Regions from separate parts of the Homo sapiens genome. Here region 1 is linked to region 2. Evidence: fine-mapped expression QTL. A gene starts in region 2. The other region holds a variant in brackets. All regions are shown on one strand. Distances are from middle to middle. Region 1 overlaps NEMP2-DT (NEMP2 divergent transcript). Region 2 holds the start of NEMP2 (nuclear envelope integral membrane protein 2).

Region 1 (2,913 bases), 33 kb before region 2:
GATAATTATTGAGTTTTTTGTTGTTTTGTTTTGTTTTGTTTTGAGATGGAGTTTTGCTCTTGTTGCTCAGGTTGGAGTGCAATGGCGCAATCTCGGCTCACAGCAACCTCCGCCTTCTGGGTTCAAGCGATTCTCCTGCCCCAGCCTCCAGAGTAGCTGGGATTACAGGCATGCGCCACCACGCCCAGCTAATTTTGTATTTTTAGTAGAGACGGGGTTTCTCCATGTTGGTCAGGCTGGTCTCGAACTCCTAACCTCAGGTGATCCACCTGCCTCAGCTTCCCAAAGTGCTGGGATTACAAGCGTAAGCCACTGTGCCCGGCCGATAATTATTCAGTTTTTACATAATTAAAATGACAAATATTATTCAAAACTGAGGCATATATATATAAGATTATATTGACACTTTTGGTACAAATTCCTATTTTCCCAGGAGTTGATTATTATTTTATTTGTTTGCATAATTTTCTACATGCCTATCACAAATTCATTCCCTATTCTTCACCAGAAGTGTAAACCTCCTCTTACTGCATTGATTCATAAAGTATTCTACAACAAATGATTTTAATTTCCTTAGTGACATCCTTACTAGAGCTGTGTGTCCTGTATTAATCTCACTTGTTGCTCTCCAGGTTTCCTGCAGAGCTGCTATGCTCAAATCACCTTCACAAAGATCATGTAGATTCTCTTTTCATCTGTAAGGTGATAGATCCCCCATTTCTTGGATCCAATGTCTTCCTCTTTCTTGTTTTCTTCCCCTTATTTTCTTAGATTATATCCTGCAGTAGCTTCCTGTAAAAGGATACATGAGACATAAGTTTTCTGAATTCCTCTGTTTGAAATTATCTTTATTCTGCTCTCACACTTCATTGATAGTTTAGCTGGGTATTGCATTCTAGGTTTAAAAGAAATTATCCTGGCTGGATGCAGTGGCTCACACCTGTAATCCCAGCACTTTGGGGGACCAAGGCGGGCGAATCGCAAGGTCAAGAGATCGAGACCATCCTGGCCAACATGGTGAAACCCTGTCTCTACTAAAAATACAAAAATTAGCTGGGCATGATGGTGCATGCCTGTAGTCCCAGCTACTTGGGAGGCTGAGGCAGGAGAATAACTTGAACCCAAGAGGCAGAGGTTGCAGTGAGTCGAGATCATGCCACTGCACTGTAGCCTGG[T/C]GACAGAGCGAGACTCCATCTCAATAAATAAATAAATAAATGAAATTATCCCTCATAATTCTTAAGGCATCGTTCATTGCTTTCCCTAGTCCAATATTGTAGTTGAGCAAGCAGTCTGATGCATTCTGATACCTACTCTTAGCATAAGACTAATTCTTTTTTCTTCTTCTGAAAGCTTTTGGGATTCTCTCATTATTCCCAATGGTCTGACACATCTCAATGATGTGCCTTGGTGTGGGCCGTTTTTTATTTGTTGTGTTGAGTACTTGGTACCTTCGATTTTTAGACATAGCCTTCAGTTCTGGGAACTTTTCTTGTATACTTTTTCCTCCATTTCTTCTCTTTCTTGAGCTCCTTGTAGTCAGATATTGTTCCTACTAGATGGATAGTCTAAGTCTCATACCTTTCCTTTCTTATTGTTAATCTACTCATCTTTTGGTTCTATTTTCAGCAGACTTCCTCAACTTTATCTCCTACTCCTACTACTGAAGTTTTTAAAATTATATTTTTAGTTTCCAAGAGCTCCTTCCTTTTTTATCTAATTGTTCTTTTATCATCGCATTCTGCTTTTATTTTATAGATACAAATCTCATAATTTTTCAGGCTATAAATTAGCATTTAAACAGTATTTTTCTATTTTCTATAGTTTCCCTTTATATTCCATTTTCTGTTTTTCATGTTTCCTCCTCTCTTTTAGGTTAGAGGTATGATTTACATGCCTCATGGTATTTTTTTGCCGACTTATATTTAAGAATAGAGCACTCAAAAGCTGACGAAGAGCTCTGTGTGGGTAGACGGTGTTTGTAGAGTGATGGGTTTCACTTTTGTATGGTATGGAAAACCTGTTATCTGTTGTATATTTAACTTTTTTGGGGAAAAAACCCCCTATATTTCCTAGGTGAGTGACTTCTGAATCTTTCTTTCCTTCCTTCCTTTCTTTTTTTTTCTTTTCTTTCTTTCCTTCTTTCTTTCTTTTCTTCCCTCCTTCCTCTCTCCTTCCTTCCTTCTTCCTCCCCTTCTCTTCCCTTCCCTTTCCCTCCCCTCCCCTCCCTTCCCTTCCCCTTCCTTTCTTTTTTATTTTCTTTCTTTTCTTTCCCGTTTTAAGACAGAGTCTTACTCCTGTAGCCCAGGCTGGAGTCAGTGTTGCAATCACAGCTCACTGCAGTCTCGACCTCCCATGTTCAGGTGATCTCACACCTCAGCCACCACACCCAGCTAATTTTTTGTACTTCTAGTACAGACAGGATTTTGCCATGCTGCCCAGGCTGGTCTCAAACTCCTGGGCTCAAGTGATCCTCCCACCTCAGCCTCCCAAAGTGCTGGGATTACAGGCATGATCCACTGTGCCCAGTAAACCTGACAGTAAGAAATTCTTTTTCATCAAGTCCCAGTCAACACACTCACATATATTTATAAAGACAAAAATGTTTTGTGAAACAATATTTACTTTCTCTTCATAGAATGCTCTCTGACATTCTCTATCTAGTCTACTGAATTTTATTTTCTTTCATGTTTGTGATGGACCATTATATATCCATTAGATACACTGCAATGAAGGGACTAGTTGCCCCAGACTGTGAGATGGCTGCTGGTGGGGACTCTTCAGTTGTTGGCCTTTTCAGGGATTGCTTCAGTGCAGAGCTGCCTTGCCCAGGGTCATACTTCCTGTGGCCATATCCAGTAAGGGTTGGGGGGTGGGGGGAGATATTAGTTTTCTAGGGCTGCCATAACAAAATGC
Region 2 (2,913 bases):
GTTTGTGCTTCTATCTCTTCTCCAGAAGCAGGGGGTCTTTGCCAGGATCCTGTTGGTGGTAAAGCTTCCTGCCCTTCCCCCAGTGGATAAGGTTTTCATACAGAAGAAAAGTTTGGAGAGGTTAAGTGGAATTTCATGATTGTCCCCCAGTGACAGAACTATCACCTCCTAACATTCTTGTTATCTCCGGAAAAATATTTATTGCTTATAGAGAAAAATGTGGTGTTTCAATATAGCTTCTTTACAGATATTTACTAAGGATCTGTGATATAAATAGCACTTTAAATATTTAGTACATTGCTGCCTGCCCTTTTGTTTCTCCACCAGATATATCTGTAGAAAATACATTCATCATTCAACAACCCACCTGTTTATTTTAGCTACTTTCCATAGTGCCATCCAAAATTAAACCAAATCAAAATGAATGTGGTTAGGTACAAAAGCTGTCTTGCAAGAAGCAAGTGCACACCGCACCTGGGAATACAGGAAAGAATTGGATCAGGGCTCTGCTGTTTCTCTGAAGACAGGCTTCACTCAAGTAATGATGGTTTATTTTTAAAAACCATCCCTCTGAAGAGTCCCTTACAAGGAAATTTCTTAACTTTTTAAAAGCCATACATGGTGTACACATGGTGCCAAGTGCTTAAGGGCAGTTGGTTAAACCTTTCTTTGAGGGCAAGGAAAGCCTAGTCCATCCTACTCAGACTTTTAGGAAAAATGAGGCTTATCTATTTTTAACAGGATAATTTCTGTTACTTTGGGTTCTCTAAGATATCTCACCAAAAGACCAGAATTAGAGAAGACTGTCCTAGTTAAGTATGGAATATTGAGTCAAATTAATGGGTTCCAGGTCCTGTGGAGGGAATGTTCTTTAAAATATATGTATATCTCCTAATTATCAGTATTAAGATCATTCAGGTTATATGTTAATTTAAAAATATATCTATTACATTAAGAAACTTTTTTTTAACATAAGGTAATTTTAAGAGAACCTTGTCATGTTGGTGAAGGAACATTTTACGAGCCCCTCTGTACTCTGAAATGCCGTGTCCGAGATTAGACATACAAGTCAGTGTTACTTAAGCGGCCAAATTTCCAATTTGTTATTGCTTGTTACCAAATGAAAGTAAAAAGATAAACAGAAAGGTAAAATAAAGAAACTGGCTTTTATGTATTTTATTCACAAAAAGGGCGTTTGCCGAAGGACCTTCCCATTCACGGGCTGTCACTCACAGGTGCTCGGAGAATTCAGCCTCCAAATCCGCAGGTCACAGGTCAGCCAAGTTTTAAGAAACACTCCGGGTTAGCGACTCTTCCTCTCTGCAACTCCCACCCCTGCGCCGAGGGCAGCGGGACACGGCCGGGCGGTCCCCAGGGGAAGATGAGGCCCTGGACGCCCCGCGTGCGCTGGAGGCCCGGAGGCCAAGGCCGAGGCCGAGGCCGAGGCCGGGAGCATGCCAGCGGGGTCGCGCCACCGAAAGCTCCTCCGGCCTGGGCCCGCCGTGCCCCGAGGCCGCGGGCGGAGGCTGGAGCAACGAGCCCAACTCTCCCTCCGCCCCGGGGAGGCGGGGTCTCCGCCTTTCCCGCGTTCGGGCCTCACCGCCCCCTCCGCCTTCTCTGAGCCCCCGCGCCACTTCCGCTCCTCGCAGCGGAGCCGGTCCCCTAGGGCTCGGGTCGCACGGAGCTGACCCCTAACGAAATGGGGCCGCGCCAAGGGCGGTGGTGGCTGCTGCTCTGGCTGCCGCCCCTGGCCACACTGCCCGTGCGCGGGGAGGCGGCGGCGGCAGCGTTATCAGGTAACCCGGGACCGGCGGCGGCGGCGCGCGCGTGCGTGCTCGCTCCCCGGCTTCGCGGCTGCCCTGAGGGCGCGCTCTTTGGCCCGGGCGGCACCGCGAGGCCCACTGGGGCGGGCGCTCCCTTTTCTCGCTTTGGGGTCTCCCGGGCAGGCCCCGCCCGCCCTTCCTGTCTTACTGGGCTTCCGTAGTCTCTCGCCTGGCAGTTGGACATTTTGTAATTTTAGAATTAGAAGCAACCGCGCGATCCAGTCGCCCAATTCCCTCGTTTTACAGAAGCAACCGAAACTCAGAGAGGTTTTGATTTGCCCAGGGTCACACAGCTTGTCACTGGCACAGCTGACCCTAGTCTCCAGACTTTCAGCACACGGCCTTTTGTACAGTACATCAATGCGTGTTGAAATCCTTGTTATTTCACTATCTCGCATTCCTTTGGTCTCAAGACTAGAGAAGGTAACAGCTTCAGCTTCAGAATCGGAGCGAAAATTCTTCTGCCCCTGACTGTTGTGACCTTGAGCGAGTAAACATAACGGTCCCACGTGAGCGGCAGGTAATGAGGCCTCACAAGGTTCTTGTGGTGTTCGTGTGCACAATGCCTGGCACACAGGAAGCAAGAACTGGTAGCGGCTGCTAGCTGTAGGGGCTCGCCACGGAGTGGGCTTAAGATGCTGGCACACTGGGGAAGGATCTGGGAAGGACACCTGGGGAAGTCAGAAACCTAGAGTTCCAACTCCAGACCTGCCGCTAACTTACCATGAGCTTCACATTTCTGTTTCTTTTTTTTTTTCCCCTCATAAAATCTTTTAAAAGATTTCCTGGGTGCACTGTCTACCAACTTCCCTTCCTTGCTTTGGCTACCCTGGTTTCAAGGGAGGCTGCCAAGTGTATTCTTTTAGCTGGGCATGGCCCTCCCTCCGGTTATACCGCGGTTTTTTATCTAAGGATGAATGAGAGACTGGATGTTGATGAGGTCATTATCAGATTCTGCCACAGCTCCCAACTGAGGGAATCTTGCAGTGAGTTATATGTTGGGGAAGTGTTGGATTCCAGTTTTCATTGAAGAGAAATTTTTTGAGTGTTCAGTATGTGCTAGGCAGTGTTATAAGTGCTTTAACTGCAG

Evidence for each region.
Region 1: its variant is fine-mapped to the expression of NEMP2 in nasal epithelium (TOPMed, PIP above 0.99).

What each region holds. Positions count from the first base shown.
Region 1 is chr2:190,565,952-190,568,864 of GRCh38, reverse strand. NEMP2-DT (NEMP2 divergent transcript) reads right to left here. Exons shown (of 5, transcript NR_183903.1): 2 at 590-792. It also overlaps a transcript of NEMP2 not described here. Among named protein-coding and RNA genes, the nearest start is that of NEMP2-DT, 33 kb to the right of the region's middle. The variant T/C (reference allele first, on the strand shown) is at 1,176.
Region 2 is chr2:190,533,442-190,536,354 of GRCh38, reverse strand. It overlaps NEMP2 (nuclear envelope integral membrane protein 2), which reads left to right and starts at 1,633. Exons shown (of 9, transcript NM_001142645.2): 1 at 1,633-1,796. The coding sequence starts at 1,700. It overlaps NEMP2-DT (NEMP2 divergent transcript), which reads right to left and starts at 1,517. Exons shown (of 5, transcript NR_183903.1): 1 at 1,234-1,517. RefSeq lists a silencer at 1,320-1,969.